Linked DNA regions of Homo sapiens: all the other regions are linked to region 1. Evidence: fine-mapped expression QTL. A gene starts in region 1. Each other region holds a variant in brackets. All regions are shown on one strand. Distances are between the middles of the regions. Region 1 holds the start of CASP5 (caspase 5). Region 2 overlaps CASP5 (caspase 5). Region 3 overlaps LOC105369468 (a long non-coding RNA gene). Region 4 overlaps LOC105369468 (a long non-coding RNA gene).

What was found. PIP is the estimated chance that this variant, and not a neighbour inherited with it, causes the effect.
Region 2: its variant is fine-mapped to the expression of CASP5 in whole blood (TOPMed, PIP above 0.99).
Region 3: its variant is fine-mapped to the expression of CASP5 in whole blood (TOPMed, PIP above 0.99).
Region 4: its variant is fine-mapped to the expression of CASP5 in whole blood (TOPMed, PIP 0.94).

What each region holds. Positions count from the first base shown.
Region 1 is chr11:105,020,266-105,025,866 of GRCh38, forward strand. CASP5 (caspase 5) reads right to left here and starts at 2,903. Exons shown (of 10, transcript NM_004347.5): 1 at 2,865-2,903. The coding sequence starts at 2,871. The region is part of intron 1 of LOC124902742 (a long non-coding RNA gene); the gene reads left to right. It overlaps CASP1 (caspase 1), which reads right to left. Exons shown (of 9, transcript NM_001257118.3): 9 at 5,243-5,601.
Region 2 is chr11:104,989,174-104,995,093 of GRCh38, forward strand. CASP5 (caspase 5) reads right to left here. Exons shown (of 10, transcript NM_004347.5): 10 at 5,070-5,174. Among named protein-coding and RNA genes, the nearest start is that of CASP4, 24 kb to the left of the region's middle. The variant G/A (reference allele first, on the strand shown) is at 2,677.
Region 3 is chr11:105,222,030-105,227,949 of GRCh38, forward strand. All of the region lies in intron 4 of LOC105369468 (a long non-coding RNA gene), which reads right to left. Among named protein-coding and RNA genes, the nearest start is that of CARD18, 85 kb to the left of the region's middle. The variant G/A (reference allele first, on the strand shown) is at 2,601.
Region 4 is chr11:105,178,362-105,184,281 of GRCh38, forward strand. All of the region lies in intron 4 of LOC105369468 (a long non-coding RNA gene), which reads right to left. It overlaps LOC105369469 (a long non-coding RNA gene), which reads left to right. Exons shown (of 5, transcript XR_007062872.1): 3 at 5,009-5,160; 4 at 5,412-5,562. Among named protein-coding and RNA genes, the nearest start is that of CARD18, 42 kb to the left of the region's middle. The variant A/G (reference allele first, on the strand shown) is at 3,375.

The DNA of each region.
Region 1 (5,601 bases):
TCACCACTCCTATTCAACATAGTGTTGGAAGTTCTGGCCAGGGCGATCAGGCAGGAGAAGAAAATAAAGGGTATTCAATTAGGAAAAGTGGAAGTCAAATTGTCCCTGTTTGCAGACGACATGATTGTATATCTAGAAAACCCCATTGTCTCAGCCCAAAATCTCCTTAAGCTGATAAGCAACTTCAGCAAAGTCTCAGGATACAAAATCAATGTACAAAAATCACAAGCATTCTTATACACCAACAACAGACAAACAGAGAGCCAAATCATGAGTGAACTCCCATTCACAATTGCTTCAAAGAGAATAAAATACCTAGGAATCCAACTTACAAGGGATGTGAAGGACCTCTTCAAGGAGAACTACAAACCACTGCTCAAGGAAATAAAAGAGGGTACAAACAAATGGAAGAACATTCCATGCTCATGGGTAGGAAGAATCAATATCGTGAAAAATGGCCATACTGCCCAAGATAATTTACAGATTCAATGCCATCGCCATCAAGCTACCAATGACTTTCTTCACAGAATTGGAAAAAACTACTTTACAGTTCATATGGAACCAAAAAAGAGCCCGCATTGCCACGTCAATCCTGAGCCAAAAGAACAAAGCTGGAGGCATCACACTACCTGACTTCAAACTATACTACAAAGCTACAGTAACCAAAACAGCATGGTACTGGTACCAACACAGAGATATAGATCAATGGAACAGAACAGAGCCCTCAGAAATAATGCCGCATATCTACAACTATCTGATCTTTGACAAACCTGAGACAAACAAGCAATGCGGAAAGGATTCCCTATTTAATAAATGGTGCTGGGAAAACTGGCTAGCCATATGTAGAAAGCTGAAACTGGATCCCTTCCTTACACCTTATACAAAAATTAATTCAAGATGGATTAAAGACTTAAAAGTTAGACCTAAAACCATAAAAACCCTAGAAGAAAACCTAGACATTACCATTCAGGACATAGGCATGGGCAAGGACTTCATGTCTAAAACACCAAAAGCAATGGCAACAGAAGCCAAAATTGACAAATGGGATCTAATTAAACTAAAGAGCTTCTACACAGCAAAAGAAACTACCGTCAGAGTGAACAGGCAACCTACAAAATGGGAGAAAATTTTCGCAACCTACTCGTCTGACAAAGGGCTAATATCCAGAATCTACAATGAACTCAAACAAATTTACAAGAAAAAAACAAACAACCCCATCAAAAAGTGGGCGAAGGACATGAACAGACACTTCTCAAAAGAAGACATTTATGCAGCCAAAAAACACATGAAAAAGTGCTCACCATCACTGGCCATCAGAGAAATGCAAATCAAAACCACAATGAGATACCATCTCACACGAGTTAGAATGGCAATCATTAAAAAGTCAGGAAACAACAGGTGCTGGAGAGGATGTGGAAAAATAGGAACACTTTTACACTGTTGGTGGGACTGTAAACTAGTTCAACCATTGTGGAAGTCAGTGTGGCGATTCCACAGGGATCTAGAACTAGAAATACCATTTGACCCAGCCATCCCTTTACTGGGTATATACCCAAAGGACTATAAATCATGCTGCTATAAAGACACATGCACACGTATGTTTATTGTGGCATTATTCACAATAGCAAAGACTTGGAACCAACCCAAATGTCCAACAATGATAGACTGGATTAAGAAAATGTGGCACATATACACCATGGAATATTATGCAGCCATAAAAAATGATGAGTTCATGTCCTTTGTAGGGACATGGATGAAATTGGAAATCATCATTCTCAGTAAACTATCACAAGAACAAAAAACCAAACACCGCATATTCTCACTCATAGGTGGGAACTGAACAATGAGAACACATGGACACAGGAAGGGGAACATCACACTCTGGAGCCTGTTGTGGGGTGGGGGGAGGGGGGAGGGATAGCATTGGGAGGTATACCTAATGCTAGATGACGAGTTAGTGGGTGCAGCCCACCAGCATGTCACATGTATACATATGTAACTAACCTGCACATTGTGCACATGTACCCTAAAACTTAAAGTATAATAATAATAAATAAATAAATTAAAGAAAAAAAAAGACTGCAGATTATTCATATATGTTATAAGGTTTAGAAAGCACTGATCTATTCCAGTTTCTTCCTTTTTCCAGTGAGGAGAATGAAACCAAAGACGCAATATGACCTGCTGGAATACGAGCTGCTTAAGTAGCCCAGGACTCCAACTCATAGGCTTTTTTAGCTTCTGTGTATAAGACAGTTGGCCTGAAAGTAGTGTGCAGTATGGACTGAAGGGTTAAGTTTTTGGGAGTGGGAAGACAGTTAAAAGTCTATGATAGCAACCTAAGATATATTACATTATAAGAGTTAGTACCAGGACTACATAGAAAGGTGGAAAAATGCAATCACTTTAAACAGACCAATAAGATAATTCAAGATAAGAGATGACAACACGTTGAGAACACAGAGGCTCTCAGATCTGATTGTGGGGAGAAGGTTCATAGTCTGGAGGATTAATTTGGAATCAAGAGGAAGCAGAGAAGATTTCAGAGTGCATTTAGAAATTTCCGGAGTTTTCTCACACAAATAACTTACTCTGTCTTTCCTTACTCTCTCTTTGATTACCAGAAGCTGAAAGAAAGGAATTAACCTTTTTCTGGCTTGAAAACATCTAGAGAACATACTCTCCTTCAGTGTCTCTACACAGTCTCAGGATTCAAACTACATACCACCAATAAGAGAAAGATTCAGCATGCACACTATTGGTTGATTTCCCTTTTGGTATTTCTGCCTGTCACATAGCAATAAATCAAGATTTTTCTAAGACCTGAGTACCCAGCTGCTAGTCAGAAAAGGGCCCAGACTCACCAGCCATAGCTAACAGCCTCTGTCTCTTTGTACAGCACTGGAAAGTGCCTCAGACTCAGAGATAAAATACACTAGGTACTTCCTTATTGCAGGGAGTGGGGACAAGTGATTACAGATTATGGGAAGTTGCTTCTGGGAACCTATAGTTTCATCATTGGGAAGTGCCCTGTAGTAAGCAAATTGGCTTTCTATTCTTGAACTCTAGATTCTTCCCTGGGGAAAAAAAATGCAAATGACAAAACATTGTTTTGTGGGTTGAAACCTCAGCCTGGTTTTCTTTTTCCTTTTCTCTCTCCATAGCCCCACATCTTCTTTTATTCATCCCTCTCTTCTGATCTGTCAGTTTTTCTACCTCTGCTCGTCTAAAAACACATGTCCTGAATGAGTAAAATCTAACTAGTTTCCTTGCATCTTCCCATAAGAATTAACCAAATATTTTGTATATCTTGGGTTTCTTTATTTTTCATTTCAATTTTTATTTGAGTTTCAGGGGTACATATGCAGGTTTGTTACAAGAGTATATTAGGTGATGCAGAGGTTTGTAGTACAATTTAACCTATTACCTAGGTAGTGAGAATAGCACCCAGTACATAGTTTTTCGGCTCTTGCCTTCTTCCTTCATTCCTCCCTCTGGTATTTCCCTGTGTCTGTTATTCCCGTCTTTATGTCCATGTGTACACAATATTTAGCTAGAACTTACAAGTGAGATTATGTGATATTTGGTTTTCTGTTTCTGCATTAATTTGCTTAGAATAATGGCCTCCAGTTGCATCCATGTTGCTGCAAAGGGCAGGGTTTCATTTTTATGGCTGTGTAACATTCCATAGTAGCAGTGTACCACATTTTTTTAAATCCAATCCACCATTGATGGACACCTGGGTTGATTCTATTATTTTGGCTACAGTGAATAGTGCTGCGACAAACATTTGAAAGCACATGTCTTTTTGATAGAACAGTACATTTTCCTTTGAGGATTCAGTCAGTAATGGGATGCTTGGACAAATGATAGTTCTTTTTTTAGTTATTTGGTAAATCTCCAAACTGCTTTTCAAAAAGATGGATGCATCACATTACTGGACTTCAAGCTATGCTAGAAGTCTACAGTAACCACAACAGCAAGGTATTCGTACAAAAAAAACAGACACAAAGCCCAATGGAACAGAATAGAGAACCCCAAAATAAAGCCACACACCTATAACCAACTGATACTCAACAAAGTCAACAACAACAGCAAAAAGAAACAAGGAAAGGATTGTTTATTCAATAAATGTATTTCTTGTTTAAACTGTGCTGAGGAATCATGATGGAGTCTTCTCCTCCCCATCTCCCTGTCATCTTACGCTTTGATTGGAGACAGTTCTGAAGGAATCCTCTTATCTACTTCCTGGAATGCTGTTCTTCAACTGACTAAAACTGCTTTAACAGTTAATTTTTACTTAGGGTGGCAATTCACTTCTCCTTTTTGATATTCTCTGAGCAAAGACTGATCACAGATGTAGTCTCAGGTTGTAGTAGAGTATGCATGATAACACAGAAGAGATATGCCCAGAGAAACAGTTAATAAAAGGTAAAAAAAAAAAAAAAGAGAGAGAGAGAGAGACTGTAATGTGTTCAACTATGAAGGTGTTTAAGAAGTCAGAAATTAACTCTCATTTAATCTGTTAAATATTAGAAAAAAACATATTTGCAAGTAAGGGGTAGTTCTTCGAATCCTCCCTAAATCTTAACATCCCTGAGTGCATGATTTCACCCCAAACTCGTTTTCTCTGCACCATGCCAGGACTTCACTGTGCACACCATGCATCCTAGAGTTTCTTCAGGGTGTCAGGCACCATCTGCCAAGCGCTTCATTTTGGATGGCTGTCTTATCTTTTCAAGAAGTCTGTGAACTACTGAGGGTTGATTCAAAACTTACTTTGTCTTAAATACTTTTGCAAAGGGTAGAAACATGCAAGTTCATGGATTTGTCAGTAGCAAACTGTGGGATTTGGGAAAAGTTCTTTATCACACTACACTGTCGCTGTCATAACTAGCTGTCTTCCCCCGTCTCTCCTGCTGAGCTCTAAATTATTTGAAGTCAGATACCTGCTGTAACTTATATCACATCCCCAAAGCAGAAAGCCCAGCAAACGATTTTTCTTTTTTTAAAAATGGCACAAAATAAATTTTTGTTCAAGAAAGTAATTAATAACATTGCTATGTTTGTAAGTCTGATTTTCTTTTTTAAATTTTTATATTTTATTTTACTTTAAGTTCTGGGAAAGAAAGGTGCCAATAGCCAGTTTGGGTCTGACAGATTAAGTCAAACACTCTAAATTCCTTAGTCACTCTAAGTTCCAGTCCCTGTTTCTTCAGTGTGGGAGAAAAATGAGGACAAGTTTTCATTTTTCTACCAGATTTATTATTTCAAAAAAGTTTATTATTCAGCAGACATAATTCCAAAAACCTTTACAGAAGGATCTCTTCACTTCCTATGAGAAAAAGAAATAATTAAAAAAAAAAACATAGGAAAGAATTTTGTTAAAGACATGCAAGTTATAAAGTTATACCACCAATGGGAACATACACAATTTTAAAAGGAAAGACCACATGCTATGTTTAAATATACCCTGCTGAGGTGAAGGAGAGAAACATCCAAAAGTGAGGGTTTGTAGTCTTACGGCCACTTCTAGGCCAATATCAGATGAATCTCAAAAGGGGTCTAAATGAAAAACTTTGGGAGAAGAGCAACGTGCTC
Region 2 (5,920 bases), 31 kb before region 1:
GCATAAAAACAGATGCATAGACCAATGGAACAAAATAGAGAACACAGAAACAAATTTACACACCTACAGTGAGCTCGTTTTTGACAAAGGTGTCAAGAATATACCCTGGGGAAAAGATAGCCTTTTCAATAAATGGTGCTGGGAAAACAGGATATCCATTTGCAGAAGAATGAAACTATAACCTTATCTCTTGCCACATACAAAAACAAAATCAAAACTGATGAAAGATTTAAATCTAAGACCTCAAATTATGAAACTACTAAAATAAAACATTAGGGAAACTATTAGAACATTGGTGTGGGCAAAAATTTTTTGAGTAATACCCCACAAGCACAAGAAACAAAAGCAAAAATGGACAAATAGAATCATATCATGTTAAAAAGCATCTGTGGAATAAAGAAAATAATCAAGGTGAAAGACAACCAACAGCATGGGAGAAAATATTTGCAAACTCTCCAAATGAAAAGGGATTAATAACCAAAATTTATAAGGAGCTGAAACAACTCTATAAGAAAAAAATCTAATGATCTGATTTAAAAATGGGTAAAAGAAAAAAATAAAAATGGGTAGAAGATTTGGATAGATATTTCTCAAAAGAAAACATAAAAACAACAAACAGGCTTATGAAAAGATATTCAGCACCATTGATGATCAGAGAAATGCAAATCAAAACTCCAATGATACATCATCTCACCCCAGTTAAAATGACTTTTATCCAAATGATAGGCAATAAACAGTGCTGGTGAGGATGCAGAGAAAAGGAAACATTCATACACTGTTGGGAATGTAAATTAGTACAACCACTATGAAGAAGAGTTTGGAGCCTTCTCAAAAAAAACTAAAGATAAAGCTACCATATAATCCAGCAATTCCACTTCGGGGTATGTAGCCAGAAGAAAGAAAATCAGTATATTGAAGAGACATCTGCACTCCCATATTTTTTTGCAGCACTGTTTACATCAGCTAAGATTTGGAAGCAGTCTAAGTGTCCATCAACAGATGAATGGATAAAAAAAATATGGTACATATACACAATGCAGTACTATTCAGCCATAAGAAAGACTGAGATTCTGTCATTTGCAACAACATGGATGGAATGGGAGATCATTGCATTAAGCAAAACAAGCCAGCCACAGAAAGACAAACATCACATGTTTTCATGTATTTGTGGAATCTAAAAATAAAAACAATTGAACTTATGAGTATAGAGAGTAGAAAGTTGATTACCAGAAGCTGGAAGGGTAGTGGAGGGTTGCAGGAGGAGGTGGGAATGGTTAATAGGTACAAAATTTATTAGAATGAATGAATAAGACCTAGTAATTGACAGCACCCCAGGTGACTATAGTCAAAATAATTTAATTGCGCATTAAAAAATAACTAAAAGGGGATAATTTGATTATAACACAAAGGATAAATGCTTGAGGGTATAAATATTCTATTTTTTCATGATGTGATTATTATACATTGAATGTCTGTATCAATATATCCCATGTATCTCATAAGTGCATTCATTATTTGTGATAACACCAAAATTAAAAGTTAAAAAGCATCTCATACTTTTCTCTGTTGTTATACATATTCTCCAACTAAAAATGATGGTGGGATTATGGATCAAAAGATTACAAGGCAAAAGATTACAGGGACCATGTCTTTAAAATTAAAACTTTCAAAATATGTGTAAATACTTGCTAATGTGAGTATATGTCAACACTATTTACTTCTTTCACTGGATGTTAGGGAAAAAAGGAACGGGGTGGATCCTTCTGGGTAAAGGAAAATAGTTTCACTAAATTCTTGTCTTTATTTCAGAAAATGCCTGCCCTTCAAGGCAGATAAGAGAGTATTTTTTTAATATATTTTAAGTCTAATTTTCCCCTTTTAAGTCAAATTCTTCTTTTCTCTTTGGGTGACATTACTGATTATTATTATCTCCAATGGAAGATAGCTACATATATGAATGGAGGGAAAGAGAAGTCGTTTGGAAATGAAAGACTAACAGAAAAAGAACTCATATTATTTGAACCCAATTCATTTTTACTTTGATTCCTAGTTACGAATTCTAATTCTATCCAACCTTAGTTTTAAGAGTCTTGGCAAAGAATTGTAACACAGGCAATTTTGGCTTCCTGTATGCCATTCAACCTGCTGTCCATTCTGCAAGCCATCTTTCTTAATTATAAATCTGACTATAAATAACGCCCCTGTTTAATAATATTCTAAAATAATTTACACTGTCCCCAGGACAAATAATTACTCCTATATATTTCATCAGTACATCTAATCTTTTCAAACCATACTTCAACTTTTACATTGCAACCATACAATTTTTTTAATTCCCAAATTTGTCTTATCGTTTTGCACTCTCAATTTTGGTGCGTGATTTTTCCTCCCCCTTATAAAATTCTCTTTTTGATATAACAAATTTATCATAATAAAAGCATGCACACTTACATGCAAACATAAGTCTCTGTGTTCTGTTTTCCTGTCAATTTTTAACACCGTTAATAACTCAAATTAAACTCCTATTTTTCATTGTACCACCACTAGTCTCTAAATTGCTGGGAGTTCTCACTCCACTGTTGCCTGCACAACCCTGGAAGTATAAATTTGGAAGGTGAGGGGACAGAGGCTGACTTAAGGCTGCCAGTGATACTCCCTTCACTATTTCAAAAAGTC[G/A]CATAAGTGATCTCTTTTCTTCTCTCTCCAATTCTGTTCATGTGTCAATTGGGGTATTGTTTATCTATCACACTCACTTGGGTTTTTTTGTTTGTTAAATATACAAAAGACTGATACTTAAATCATTTTTTAATAATAAATATAGGTTTGCCACTAAAATTAAACAATAGAAAAGTTTGTAAAGTGGAAAAGGATTATCCACACTCTTTAATTTGACACAAGGTAACCCCAATTATATGTTTAGCTTGCATCTTTCTGAATTTTTTCTATGCTTTTGTAAAACACTTAATATATTACCGATTTTATTGATTTCCTTAATCATTGGCTTCCTAGTATCCTTGACCTTTGCTTCAACCCTGTAACAGTCTTATGACTTGGTTTTGGCCAACATAATGCAGTAGAAGGATCTCGTGCAATTCCCAGCTCAGGCTTTATGAAGCCTGGTGCTCTTCTTCCTCGTGGACACCTGAACCTAAATGAGGACGAGCCTGAGCCACATTGCTGGCTAATAAGACACATCATGTGGAAAAGAGCCCAGCTGCCCCAGCCAGCCAAGGTCATTCTAGACCAGCCATGTGCTTTCCAAACATATGAGAGATCCCAGCCTTTCAGTAAAGATGCCTACCCCATGCAGAGGTGATCTCAGACACATGGATAATCTCAGCAGAGTCAAGACCTACCTAGCTAACTGGTAACCTTGTGAACAATAGCAAATGCTTATTGTGTTAAACTACTGAGGTTTTGGGTGTTTTGATACCCATAAATAAATAACTGGCAGACACATATTTACCTATACCTTTTTTCCTTATAGCACCAGTATCATATATTATCAACAATTTGCTCCATTTGTTTAATCTTTGCTTCACAACATAGGACAAACCCTTTAAAAATTCAACACATTAAAATTCAATACTACCTGATTTTTAGAAATCTATAAATTATTAAAAGTGTCAATTCAATATAATTTTAAATATTTTGTCAAAGTAATACATTCATGAGACAGTCCATAGTACAGAAAAGAATACAATAAAAATCATATTTCCCAGTACAACTCTCCCCACCTTTAGTCCCACATACTAGAGGTAATTTCCTTCAATTATTTTTGTTTTGTTTTGTTTGGCAGTAACATTTGGAATTCTCAATAATGACTATTATACCTCTGTGTTTCCCGAAATATAGAACATAAACAATGCCATTGACTACCTGATATGAAAAATGAGATGCAGCTCACTTACATAGCCACATATCTGGTCTATTCTACCTAATATTTGATGATGTCATGATGTTCATACTTTTTATTGATTAATTGTGGAACAATAAATAATATATTTAATCCTAATTTCTTCTTTCATCAATGTTGCTCAGTAGTTAAATTTTCTCTATGTAAGTTGATTAATGTTGCCCTCATACCTTCTCACTTTCAATTATATCATTATATTTTTGCAATTTTTATCGTAGTAAAATGCCATAACAAAATTACAAGCTTAACAATTTTAAGTGTACAGCCAAATAGTATTAAAATACATTCATAATTTTGCACAACAATCACCCATCTACCTCCAGAATTCTTTCTATCTTGTAAATCTGAAACTTTATAACCATTAAATGACACTTCATTTTCTCCTGCCCTAGCACCTGGCAATCACCATTCTACTTTCTGTCTCTGTGAATCTGATAATCTAGGTACCTCATATAAGTGTGATCATATTGTATTTTTGTGTGTGTGAATGGCTTATTTTACCTGGCATAATGTCCTCAAAGTTCCTCTATATTTTAGCATATGTCAGAACTTCCCTCCTTTCTATGCTAAATTATATTTTATTATATCTATATACAATATTTTACTTATCCATTTTTCAGTCCATGGATACTTTCGTTGCTTCCACATTTTAGATATCATGAACAACGTTGCCATGAATATGGGTGTATAAGTGTATCTTTGAGACCCTGCTTTCAATTATTTTAGGGATGTACCCAAAGGTGGAGTTTCTGGATCCTATGATAATTCTAGCTTTAATTTTGTGAGGAACTTCCATACTGTTTTCCACAGTGGTGCCATTTGACATTGTCACCAACAGAGCACAGGGTTCCGATTATTCTACATCCCTGCAAACACCTGTTATTTTGTGTTTGTTTGTATGTTTTGATGGGAGTCATTCTAATGGGTATGAGGTGGTATCTTATACTTTTAACACCATCTTCTTTCATTCTATTGTTGGCGGTAAGTCACAGCCAGTCGTCTTCATCAGCCAAGTATAGATGTTACATGAGCCATAAAACTCGAAAATCTAGTTAGTTTCTTCCACTTCATTTTCACTCGTCCACCATTTTCATTGAAATTATATTGTCTATTAGAGAATCTAAAAAGATACAGTTCATACAATCTAAAAAGATACAGTCTTTACTTTTATTGAAATACCAAATATTGACTATGCAAGCTATACTGGTAAATGTGCTCTTTGATGTTGACAGAGGAGGGCTGGGCTGCCTGTGGTTTCCTGCAGAAGAGAGAAAGGACAGAAGGTCAAGATGGTTACCCCTCACTGCCTTCATCCCATCCTTCATTATGATTCTTCTTCCATCTTCTGCCATATGCTTTTGCCATTTCCCTCGACTTCCATCTGTGACCTCTGTGTCTATTTAGTGAAAAGTACTCAGGAATATCTTTGTAAAACCTAAGTTAAATTATGTCACTTCTCTTTTCCAAAGCACTGGAAGGGTTTCCTATCTACTCAGATAATATTTTTTTAAAGATTTACCATGTGATGTTCAAGCACATTGTGATGAGGCTCCTCACTGTTTCTCCTAATTTGTCTCTGTCAGTTCCCTCACTTGCATTCTCTTTTGGTCACACTATCTCATTGTAGTTCTTTTTAAACCTGTTCAGCATATTTCTGCCCCAGGGCATTTGCACTTGTATTCTGTGCTGGAACACCTCTCCTGCATAAGAACCACATGATTCACTCTCCAACTCTGTGCATTCTTTATTCCAATTTCATTATTTCAAGGCAGGTTTTCCTGAATAAAGTACCTATAGTTGAGCATGTATTTTCTACAGTCCCATAACTGTGGCTGAATGTCAGTAATGAGACAGCCAAGTAAAAAGGGCTCCCTGGCAGAACCTCCCACCAGACTGTGCACTGGGAAGAATGCACACTGGGGTGGAGCCTTGGGAAGTTCATGCCATTTGCAGCAGGGAGAAGCCTGGCCCCTCCTCTTCCTGGGTGGTACCTGGTATTCAATC
Region 3 (5,920 bases), 200 kb after region 1:
TCTGAAATGGCTAATTGTCACGAAATGATTTATTGAATAATCTGTCTTTTCCCCATAGAGGTTAAGTGCCAGTTTTATCATATGCTCAATCTCTATATGATTCTATTTCTGTATTATCTATTCTGTTTCATTGGGTATTAACCTATTACTGGTTGATAGCCTGCTGCTTTTATTATTGTAGCTTTATTATTTATTTAAATATCTGGGAGAGCTAGTCTCTTATATTTAGCCAAAAATATTCTGAAAAAGAAGACTTTTTACAAGATTGTGTTTTGCATTTGAACTCCACAACGACTTTCTCTGATTCTTAAAAATCCTGACATATTTTATTAAATGGTGCTGTCCATTATATTAAAGCTTAAGAACCTGTTCAGCTTGTTTCTGTTTATTTGTATCCTTCCTGTGGATAAATCATATCATATCTTTGTTATAAAGTTGTATTATGCTCTTTTAAAATATACATTAACCTCCCCCATTCTCAGTGTAATAAACACCATTTATTTTACTTAGTATTAAATATATGTGGCTGGCTGAGGAGATCAGTTATCTATCTTTCCCATTCCTGGGCAGTAAATAAGGAAGAAAAATGGGTTTTTGTTTGATACGTAGCAAGTTATTGGTTTGTAACATGCGAATGACGGCTGGTATAAAGATAAGCTTTTAAGTAAATGCATGTGTAACATATATGCATGTTTAAGGGGATTTGAAATCTATGGTAGCCACTCAAAGAGTCTGAGCCCATCTACCCTCGATACTTGGCTTAGTCAGGAGTAAAGAAATCATTGTGATTTTGACTTTATCAAGACTCAAAATTTAGCCTGGCATGATGGCACACAACCATAATACTAGGACTTGGGAGGTTGAGGTGGGAGGATCGCTTGAGCCCAGGAATTCAAGGTCACAGTGAGCTATGATCACACCACTGCCCTCCAGCCTGGACAAGAGAGTAAGAACCCATCTCTTAAGAAAAATAATATACTAACGAAATAAAAATGTATAAGACTCATAAAACCTAGGGGTAATATAAGAGTGAAAAATTAAAAATGAGTAACTCAGAGAGATTATTGTGCCTAAGTACTTGTACTGAAAAAGAGATAACGTACTATTTAAATATATGTATATATATATATACATATACATACATACACACATTACTATATTACAAATGTAACAATATTTTTTGTCATGTAAAACAATGCTGTGGACTCCATTTGGGGCACCTGTTCAGGTTACAACCTTTCCTCTTTTAATTCTCACCATACCCACAGGGAAAATGCAGTTGATAGAACCGTGGTGGAAATCTGACCTAAACTGGGCCAGTAAGAATACCTTCCTAGGACTTCTAAACTTAAGAGTAGAAAGAAAGAAATTTTCTCTGAGTTATTTTATACGTAAAACATGAGCTCATAAGCTCAGGAGCCTCTTTCTACCTGCCACATGAAACACAGAAACAGGTCATGATGGTAGTCTCATAAAGATAAATTGAGTGGAACAGAAGGAGCCAGGAAGCAATGAGGAGAATCCAGGTGGCTTCATAAGTCTCTGAAGTGTAGCTGCCTGATCTTGAGCTCTATGAGACATATCTGAGTTTTTTTTCACTAAGCCCTTCTCTCTCCTTTTATTTGGCTTAAATTAGCTATGATTTGGGATTCAGAGAGTCTTTGAGACACCTAGGAAGTAGTTCAATTAATAGTCCTTCAGATTTGGATGCAAATCTCAAGCCTGTGATTTGGACAAATTGCCTAACTTCTGTAATATTTTTTGTGGGTCTTCAACAGTAAAACTAGGATTAAACCCTACCTCAAAACTGATAAAAAGGACTACAGTGTGTCTTGTGTGTTGAGGTAGGCTCCTACAAACCTTCAGGAGCCAGCTACTAACTTATCAAACATTTCACCAGCTTGTTGTTAATCCTGTTAATAGCTTGAAATTGGCTGTGGTGGGAGTGTTTACAACCACATAAATTGGCTAAAATACATTTTTTTTTTTGTTTTTAAAGGCTGTTCACCAGCACAGAACTAATTATAATAATAGATGTAAAGGGCTTACCCACTACCTGATCCATCATAAACACTCAATAAAGTGATATTATTATTAAAAAATTATTGTGTAGATTCTGAATCAATGAACCTATGCAATCTAATTGTATTATGAGAATATACAACAAGTGTCATTAGCAAATAGAGAAACTATGTTCATCATAGTTTATTCAAACTGCAAAGAAGGGTGTTAGTATGTCTTCCAAGCAGCAGACAACAAGAAGGAATTAAAAATGCATGGACCATATTAGGAAAATTGTCTGGATGACAAAATTGTCAGGAATTCAGGAAGACTGGGTGAGCTATCAGACCAGGGTGCAAAAAGAACTGCATCTCCATGACTGAAGGAGAAAGAGAGAAAGCCTGGGCAGGTGTTTTCAAAATCTTCCCAGCCTGCCAGATCTTCCAAGAAAGGTTTGACAAAGCCAATGGTTGGCACTCAAAGGGCCCCTGCTTTCCCCAGAGTGAGTCTGCCTTAGTATTCTTGCAGCAGTAGGTACTGGCCAGAAGCAGCCTAGGCACGGTCTTCAATTCAAGGCAGGACAAATTGAATTTTGGAAT[G/A]CAGCAGTTGTGGGCTATTGCTGCTGGCTGATACCTCCTGCTCTGGGACATCAGCCAGGCACATTCTCACAGCTGCTGCAAGGAGTAGCAATTTTCAGGTATGTTAGCTTTGCAGATCCTGCAGTTGTTCTCCACTTTAGCGTGCTTAAAAAATGACAGATTATTGGGTCCCTGTCCATTAATTGGTACTTGAAACATGGACCTCAGGTATTTCTGATACCATAAAATAGTGAAAACAAAATAAAAAACATCAAACCCCACATTTTCAATTTTTCTTAAATATACAAGGTTATTGTAATCACCTTCTCTCCTTAGGGGATCATAACATGTATGCCTGTTAAATAATAAGACTGATGGCTAAGAGCCATACAGAAAGACACAAACAAAAACAAAAACCTGGCTCATTATTTGACGTCACTGCATTCTTGGGGCTGAGTGTTCTCCATCTGTGTCTAAACACGTTTATCCCAACTTTATTTTTACAGCCTATATCAAGATAGTATTCCCACTGGCTTAGCTCCTGTCATGCCCCCCTCCCCCCAACAGCTTCTTTCTTTTCAGTGATCTTGTTTTGTTACTTCTTTCATTATTTTGATGTTGACACCATTTATTTTGCCCACATCTCTCTTGCCCAAAGAATTGTTCCTTTGTTTTTTTATTTTAAATTCCATCAACCTATTCAAATTTATAAAAACAAACAAACATCTTGCAATTATCTCCTTAGTGGTCTTTGATTTCAAGATTTTTATTTTCTCTAGTTCATCACACAGAAGGGTGTCCTTAATGTGTAAACTGGATCACCTAAGTTTCTTACTCAATAACTTTCCCTATTTAAAAAAATCAACTCTATGCTGCCATTCTAGACTTCTTATATTCTACTTGATATACATCATCCCACATTTCCTAAAGCATAGCCTATAAGAAATTGTTTATATAATAAGGGTCATTAATGGCTTGTGGTCAAGGAAATTTGTAAAATGATGAGTTGAAGGAAAGTTAACATCTGAATATATTTAAGGCTCCAGATATTTTAATATGCTAATGAGCAAGCAAATATCTAGGAGGGGTATGCTATACCACGTTTCTAGACTAGTGGTCTAAAGAAAATGCTTTTTAAAAAGGCAATATGACTTTATCTTCTGCCATTTCCCACAAGAACCAGATCCTTCAAATGCACCTCCTTGGCACACTCTGACACACTATCATGTCTGAATTTTTGCTAGGCTGTTCCATCATTCTGATTTGTTTTTTCTTTAATATAATATTGATTAGGAACCAGGAGATGAAGTCTGTGAAATGTCATAGGCTCAGTCAGGCTCTCTCCCCTCTTTATATTGCTGGGTTCGGTAACTTTGAGAAGCATTTTGCAAATTGTCAGCCAACAATAACATGAACTTGATTCTTTATTGACCATTTTATTGATAGTCTATGAGCGTTGCCTCTTGATTCTATTACATTTGGCACTTTTTGAATTGGTTCATTGGTTAAATCTTGTCTCCCTTACAAGACTATGCATATTTCAAAAACAGCTTTGTAATTTATTAATGTTCTTTACAGTACTCAGCAGAATGTAATGTGTTATGTATAATGTGGGGTTTGTTGAATTGAAAAGTAGCCAGGAGGGAGAGTCTGGGAAGATTCAGGAGGCAGGAATGGAGCAAAAAAGCTCAGTAGTTAAGAATGAGGGAAATGGATGCAAAGTCTAACTAAGCAGAAAAAGAGAACCTAAACAGAATGACATGTCCAAAGTTTGCAATGGATCACATCAATGTCTTTTTAATGTTGTTACTTGTCCAACTTTACTTTGCATTGCATTGCATTGTGAAATCTTTCACTGTTACAGATATTGTAATTGGCTACTAATTGTAGCCCTTGGAAAATAGGCTTCTGTCTATAATAGCCCAAAATACTTCAAGCCAGCAGAGCCTCCTAAAGTTCCAAAGCCTATCACACTTGAATTTCTCTCAGACTGAGAGACTCTGACTGTACATCCACACAAATACACAGTTTGTGTTTTTAATATATCATAAAAAAGGTACAATCTCTCTCCATTTATAGGAGTAGTGAACTATTGGGCCTGGGGATGTGTAGAGAGTAAAGGGAGACTACTAAGATGAAACAAAGGAGTTTTAAACTGAGAATCTGTATGTGAAAGAAAAAGGCTAACACATACTTGACCAAATGTATTTTGTTTTTGAAGATGGAAACTAGAAATTATTGCAGCTTCAATGTGTTATCCCCATAATAGCTCAGCTGATAGCACCAGCGTCTATGTGATAAGAGCTTCAAAGAAAGGTGAAGCAAATGTCACTTAGAATGACTCGTAAGTGAGGAGTTCTGCAAAACTGACAGTTCTAAAAGCAGTGAAGGGTCAATTTTGTGTACTTTAGCTCACTTGATTCAAGAGGCTAACTCTCCAGTACAGAGGCTGATAGATAACCTTCAAAAGTTTCCTTTGAGAAAAAAACAAACACTGTTTAATTTGTGGACCAGAGTAGACTCTATCTGGAATAAACTCACATGAACTAAGTAAAATGCTGAAGATAGGATGATATTAGGAATATAGTATTTGACAGAAAACTCGGAATTACCCAGTTTCTGTCTTCTTCTAATCACTCATTCCAAAGATACATTTAAATCCATCCATGGGGCACAATCTGTGGTGGAAGAGAGAGAGAATGAATGTGAGTAAGGGCCTGGAGGCCAGCTACAGCTCCTGGGGGCTGTGGGCCATCCTGTCAACCTATTAGCTCTGTTCACAAAGAAAGTGTTTAATGAGCTGGGCTAAACCATTGGCAGAACTCCTTTTGCCTAAGTTGTACATGGTTTGAGCCATCAAAAGTGGGTTGAAAGGCCATTCATTCCTGAGGCCTCACCTTAATTTTGACCTCCACCACTCTCAGCATGTGTTTTTCAGTACAGCTCTATGTATGTTCCTCCTGGTAAGGGAGAGTCTACATTCAGGAAGTATGACCACATCAGTACCACTGACCTCAATCAATAGATGGGAGAACTCCAGACAGTGCTGTAAAGCCCTTTGCTCCAGAGCCTTCCTTGTGCATGAAACAAGGAGGGGAGCAGGGAAAAAGGGCATCACTGATCTCCTTTCCTATGGAGGGCAGCAGTAGATAAACATGAAGTGTGATTTTATTGAAACAGTTCTTAAAATAATCAAGTTATTTTCTTATACAATTACTGTAAACAATTGAAGCAAATTATAACCACCAATTTAAGCTATTTATTTAAAGACTTACCATATTTTTCTATCCATATAAAATAGCCCTGTATATGAATCTCTAAGGTAGCCAATGGTTTTTTTA
Region 4 (5,920 bases), 160 kb after region 1:
AAAATACAAAAAAAATTAGCCAGGCGTGGTAGCGGGCGCCTGTAGTCCCAGCTACCTGGGAGGCTGAGGCAGGAGAATGGCGTGAACCCGGGAGGCGGAGCTTGCAGTGAGCCAAGACAGAGCCACTGCAGTCCAGCCTGGGCGAAAGAGCGAGACTCTGTCTCAAAAAAAAAAAAAAAAAAAAAACTTGTTCCTTGCTTTCAGTTATGTGAATAAAGTGGATTGAAATGTTGCAATTAGGATTTACTGTGAATAGGTACAATAAACATGTTATGTCATGGTACAATTAGAGAGGAATCACAGTTCTATAGAGATTAGAACCTAAGTTTTTCTTGAAAAGGCAAAAAGCAGACAACTAATCACAATTATCCTTGAATATCCTGTAAATTGTCTATAAAGTTAAATAGCATAGTGTAGCATGTATCTCTCTAGTGATCCTTCTGAATTTCAAGGTTGTCAACCATTACCCTGGACTAAAATTAAGAACAAAAGAAAAGTCTATATGCCGAGGTCTGGGAACTGAAGCCGTTCTGCCTCTAGGGAACTCTCTGGCCTAACCATGGTGCTGATATGAATAAAAGATTTATACTATTAAACATATATAACATAATAAATAATTATTTTTAGGTGAAAAGTGAAAAAGATATTGGATCAACATCTTAGAGACCAATTAAATTTTGAAATCAACCTGATAGTTCCATAAATATATTTTTGATTCTGGACCCAGTCTAAAAATTAAAAGAAGATAAAGAGCTAATTCTTTTCAATGCCTTAAATTTTGTCTTAACCTTTTCTAGAACTGGAGATGCATATTGTTATAGAACAGATTCATTTTTTTATCTCATTCCCCAGCATACGTTAATAAATATTTATTAATATATTATTTTCATACATGTCTAAAACAATATTAATTGTAACGGAATGGAAATTAGCTCTGCATATAAATAAAATTTTCTAGTATAATCTGGATATCTGATCAATATTTTGTCTCTCTACTGATCTCTCTATCTGAAATATATTTTTAAGCTTTTAGCCATAAAATGTTCTATCTGGTTGCACAGGCTTACAAGTATGTTTTTTTTAAAATAACTTTGCCTTAGACACAGTTCTATCATTTCAACCATTTGCTGCACCCATATACATAAGAATATTTTTCTGTTCAGATTAAACTAATAAAACTAAAAAGTGATATAAATACCATATGGTACACTCAGTGACATGCATGGTATTTTTAAAGGAAGGGATATGACACTTTGGGGGATTCCTCTTATGACTTCTAAAGATTATTCTAATGGTGTAGATATAGAATCCTCTGGTCAATTGGATAAATGCCAAGCATTTAAACTCTGCTTGCTAATATTTACATAGCTACCTTTCAGCCAGCGGGCCACTTGCTTTCCTTTTATGTATTGAGAACTAGAGCTGCCCTGTGTTCCCCTGAAATTGCGGAATAAACTTATTAAAATGAATGATAATGCATTCGCTGGTAAATTTCACAAAGTGTGAAGGACACAAATATATGAACAAAATAAAATTATGTATTATTGAGAAATGGTTTATATACTTCCAGAGATATATTGCTCCTGTACTTATGTAGAAGTAGAAATAAAGATTAGCTCTTTAACATATTAATTGATGTTTCCAGTTTGGGACCGTGAAACATCCCAGAAACAGCTGATTGCTTTTTTAAAAAAGTCCTCTGTCTTTGTTCAGCTAGTCCTACAATAGTAACTTACTCATAGTACACATTTATCATATGCTAGCAGTCTGTCCAGAATAACTTCGTTTGAAGAAAAGATAGGTCAAGTGCACATTCCAGGGAATATTTGCAAAATAATATGTATTTTCTTGCAAAATTTTAAACAATTAGCTCTTAAGGTCACTTTCATATCACCCAGCTCTGCTAGTTTTGTTCCCCTTCTAACATATTTTAAAAGTATGCTTGTTTTAAAAGTCAAATAAATAAGATCTATGATAAAAATACAAGATAATAGTTGTGACAAACTATTCTGAAGAAGTAAGTTTCTACTCTAGGTGCGGGCAAGATCCTTCTAATCAAAGAGGAGTTCTGTGTTTATCTCTTTTGAATAATTGTGCTTTAGTTTCTTCATTTATCTATCTATTATTACTGATTGCCTGGAAGTGTACAGAAAGTCATGTCAAGGACTAAAGCAAACTCCTCTCAAAATATTCTTCTTGAATAAACTAGATTTTAATATTAGTTAATATTTATGTGTACGATGTGTTAAGCATTTTAGTATGAGCTTGTTTCATGGCCAAAATAATACTGTGAGAGTATGAGATATCATGTCTTCATTGTAGAAATGGAAAAATTAATCTGTGAGCAAGGTTGTGCAGGTTTATTAAAGTTGAATAACCACCAATTGCTAGAGTGAGAATTAGAAATCAGGATTGTCGGCCGGGCGCGGTGGCTCACGCCTGTAATCCCAGCACTTTGGGAGGCCGAGGCGGGCGGATCACGAGGTCAGGAGATCGAGACCATCCCGGCTAAAACGGTGAAACCCCGTCTCTACTAAAAATACAAAAAATGAGCCGGGCGTAGTGGCGGGCGCCTGTAGTCCCAGCTACTCCGGAGGCTGAAGCAGGAGAATGGCGTGAACCCGGGAGGCGGAGCTTGCAGTGAGCCGAGATCCCGCCACTGCACTCCAGCCTGGGCGACAGAGCGAGACTCCGTCTCAAAAAAAAAAAAAAAAAAAAAAAAAAGAAATCAGGATTGTCTGAGTCCAGAGTCTATGATCTAAACCACTCATAAAGACTGCTTTTTTACACTTATATTTCCTTTCAATGGGTTATTAAAGTGAAAGCTAAGGTCTCACTAAACTATTGCTTAACAGATATTCTATTAAGATAATTCATAGCCTTTTACAAAGACAAGACTAAAATACGATTAGCAGAAAGTCTTCTGAACAACTTGGCCTTGAGCCAACCCAAGTTTCAGAGACAATGTGAATGATTCAGCCGGTGCCTTATAACTGAGATCCAGAAATAGCTCTGAATCCTACAAAGAACTAAAGAAGTATATTCTCTAGCAGACAATGAGCAATAATGAGCTTCTGATGAGCCATATATAAATTTTTAAAATATTACAATATTTTTAGCCTATTTTAAGATATAAACATGTTTCCAAAAATACAGATTGTGCTTCTGTTTATTGATTTATTATCATTTGGTGGTCTATTCAAAGATATTCACAGAGTCAATAAATTCTGATTATTTTTTCAAGTTAAAAAGCAAAGGGATTTTTTAGCAAAAACACAGCCTCCCAGAGTACAGGGAAATGATATTAAGATTACCTAATAGGGTTATTGAGGAAGTATGTGTTACAGAAACATGTACTTCTGCAATTCTTGAGC[A/G]AGAGCTACTGAAGCCAACCAACAAGAAACTCTTGTCAGGAACCTGGCATTATGTGAACTTATCCAGTATGCTTCTTGGAGATCACTTGACTCTAAATATAAGTGACAAACATCACCTTGTGTTTTCTGAGCAGGACGGAAAGGTGCAAGCTAAAATGTGTTGTTATGATGCTAGTTGGCTTTGAAATTACTTTTCAAACAAAGATCGCTTTTGATGAGACCTAATCTGATATTCATGCACAGAAAGTGAAGATATAGCAAGTATACTTAAAGAAAACCATGACTTAGAAAGCAGAACAGTTATATTTATGTTTGTAGAGACTAGGAGAGATAATTATCTTAGAAGTGATTTAAATGCACAGAAAGTAAGTGCCCAATTTCCAAAGAAGAATTAGAGATCTCTAAAGCCTTTATTAGAAAATCCTTGTGTTCTTTTTATGAAATGTCAGTGAAATGAGAGATTGTCATGACGTTAAACCAGAATAAGAATTTAAGGAATGGAGAAAAGCAATGATGAAAAAAAGTATGTATCAACGTTTGATCTGAAATTTTCCTCTTCTTTGGAAAATGTCAAATTTTATGTGCATATTACTTGAGCTGAAATGTAAAATCTTAAGGTTTATGCTGAAGCTTCCTATGACTCTAATGAAAATTTAGAATGTGAATAAGAACTTTTTAGAAATACTTTCTATTGTTATAGCTTCAATAAATTCTAAAAATTGTTTTTACATAACATCCATGGCAAGAAAAAATGTCTATACTAATCATAACATTCTTCTTCCATACTTCAGTATGAGAATACAACCATATTATTTTCTAATATTAAGGTCTATTTATTGATCCTCAGCAGCATTATTACAGTTTTCTAATCTTTATTAAAATCACCCTGTGCACAAAAACTGTTCTGACATTTAACTAATTTCCAAACATCTTAAACCATTCAAATATAGTGTCCATTGAGTATAATTTGACTTTTACAAAACTCAGTTGAAAATTCCTTGTTTGCCTATTTGTTTTACTTGTTTACATTTGTTTTTCTATCATATGCTATATTTTCTCTATTGTGTAAACCAGGGAACAGAGTTTGCAGACTTTGGTTACCACACGCATACCTAGGATCCAACACAATAGCATTTCTGAATTTATACCAGAATCAATACACTAAAAAGTATCTAGTGCACAGTAGGCACTCAATAAATGCTTGTGAAAATGGAAAAATATTTACATATAAATTTAGCAGTTAAGGTAGAAACTTATTAATTAGTGAAGTTCTCAATTCTTCAGATAATTTTGGAAGGGTATTGTCAAGTGATTTATCCTGATTTTATTCTCCTTGCAATCATTTCTCCCTATTCTCCAGTTCTAGGATTCACATAATTTCTCTCTGACACAAATCTGTCCTTTTAGCTCATCACATATTTTTCAAATAAGTTGTAAATCATTTTACTTATTTTATTGTCTGTCAATTTATTTCTCTAGTAGTCTCAATTTTTTTACTTGGCCTCACTGTGCACATACATAACAGCACATTCTCAACCCCTATCCCTGCTTAAAAAAACTGGTTACAGTGTGATTTGGATTTGAAGCAGTGGATAATATACATGCAACCGAAACATTTTTCCTTTTCCTTCTAGCTACAGTAAAGTCAAGGTCTATACACCAAAGATAGAAAAAATGAGAAAAATAAATGGAAAGAATGAAGCAAAAAGAGAGCCATGAAAGATACAAAGAGATGTATTTAGAAAGTAGAAGGATCAAGACACTGTGTGCCTCAGAAAAAAAGAAGGTAAGCAGCAGTCGACTATATTTTTTAATTGAGATTTTCTTATCTAATTGGAATTATCCATGTAAGGAAACGAATCAGGAACTTGGTTGCCAGATGCAGAGAAGTAGATAAGATTTTCCTCTAGCTATATGCTTGTGCTTTTGGCCTGATTAGCAGCGGATTGAATGATGGCCCTCCTCAAAAGGTATGTTCATATTCTAATCCCTGAAAAATGTAAATGTGACCTTGTTTAGAAAAAATCTTCTTTGCAGATATAATTAAGCTAAAGATTTTGAGATGGAATAATTCAGAGGAGGAGAAGATATGAAGCAGAAGAGAAGAATCCCATGTGAAGAAGGGTACAATGATTGAAGTTACACAGGCGCAAGTTGAAAAGGCTGAAGCCATCAGAATGTGGAAGAGGTAAGGAAGGATTCTACCCTACAGCCTTCAAAGGGAGCATGACTTTGCTGACACCTTGATTTTGGACTTCTGGCCTTGAGAACTGTAATATAATAAATTTCTGTTGTTTTAAGCTATCAAGTTTATTGCTATTTGTTAAGAGAGCAGTAGGAAACTAACAGTATGTATATTCCTTCTTTAGTGACAGTTACGAAGTAAAAAAAAAACAAGAGAATATGGAAACTGCTATATACTAATGATTTTTTTCTGCCCATATCCATCTGAAGCAGTTCCTATTTTTGAAGGTTCCTTTCCCTAACACACACACACACACACACACACACTACCACCACCACCACCACACCAGAATTAAATAAAA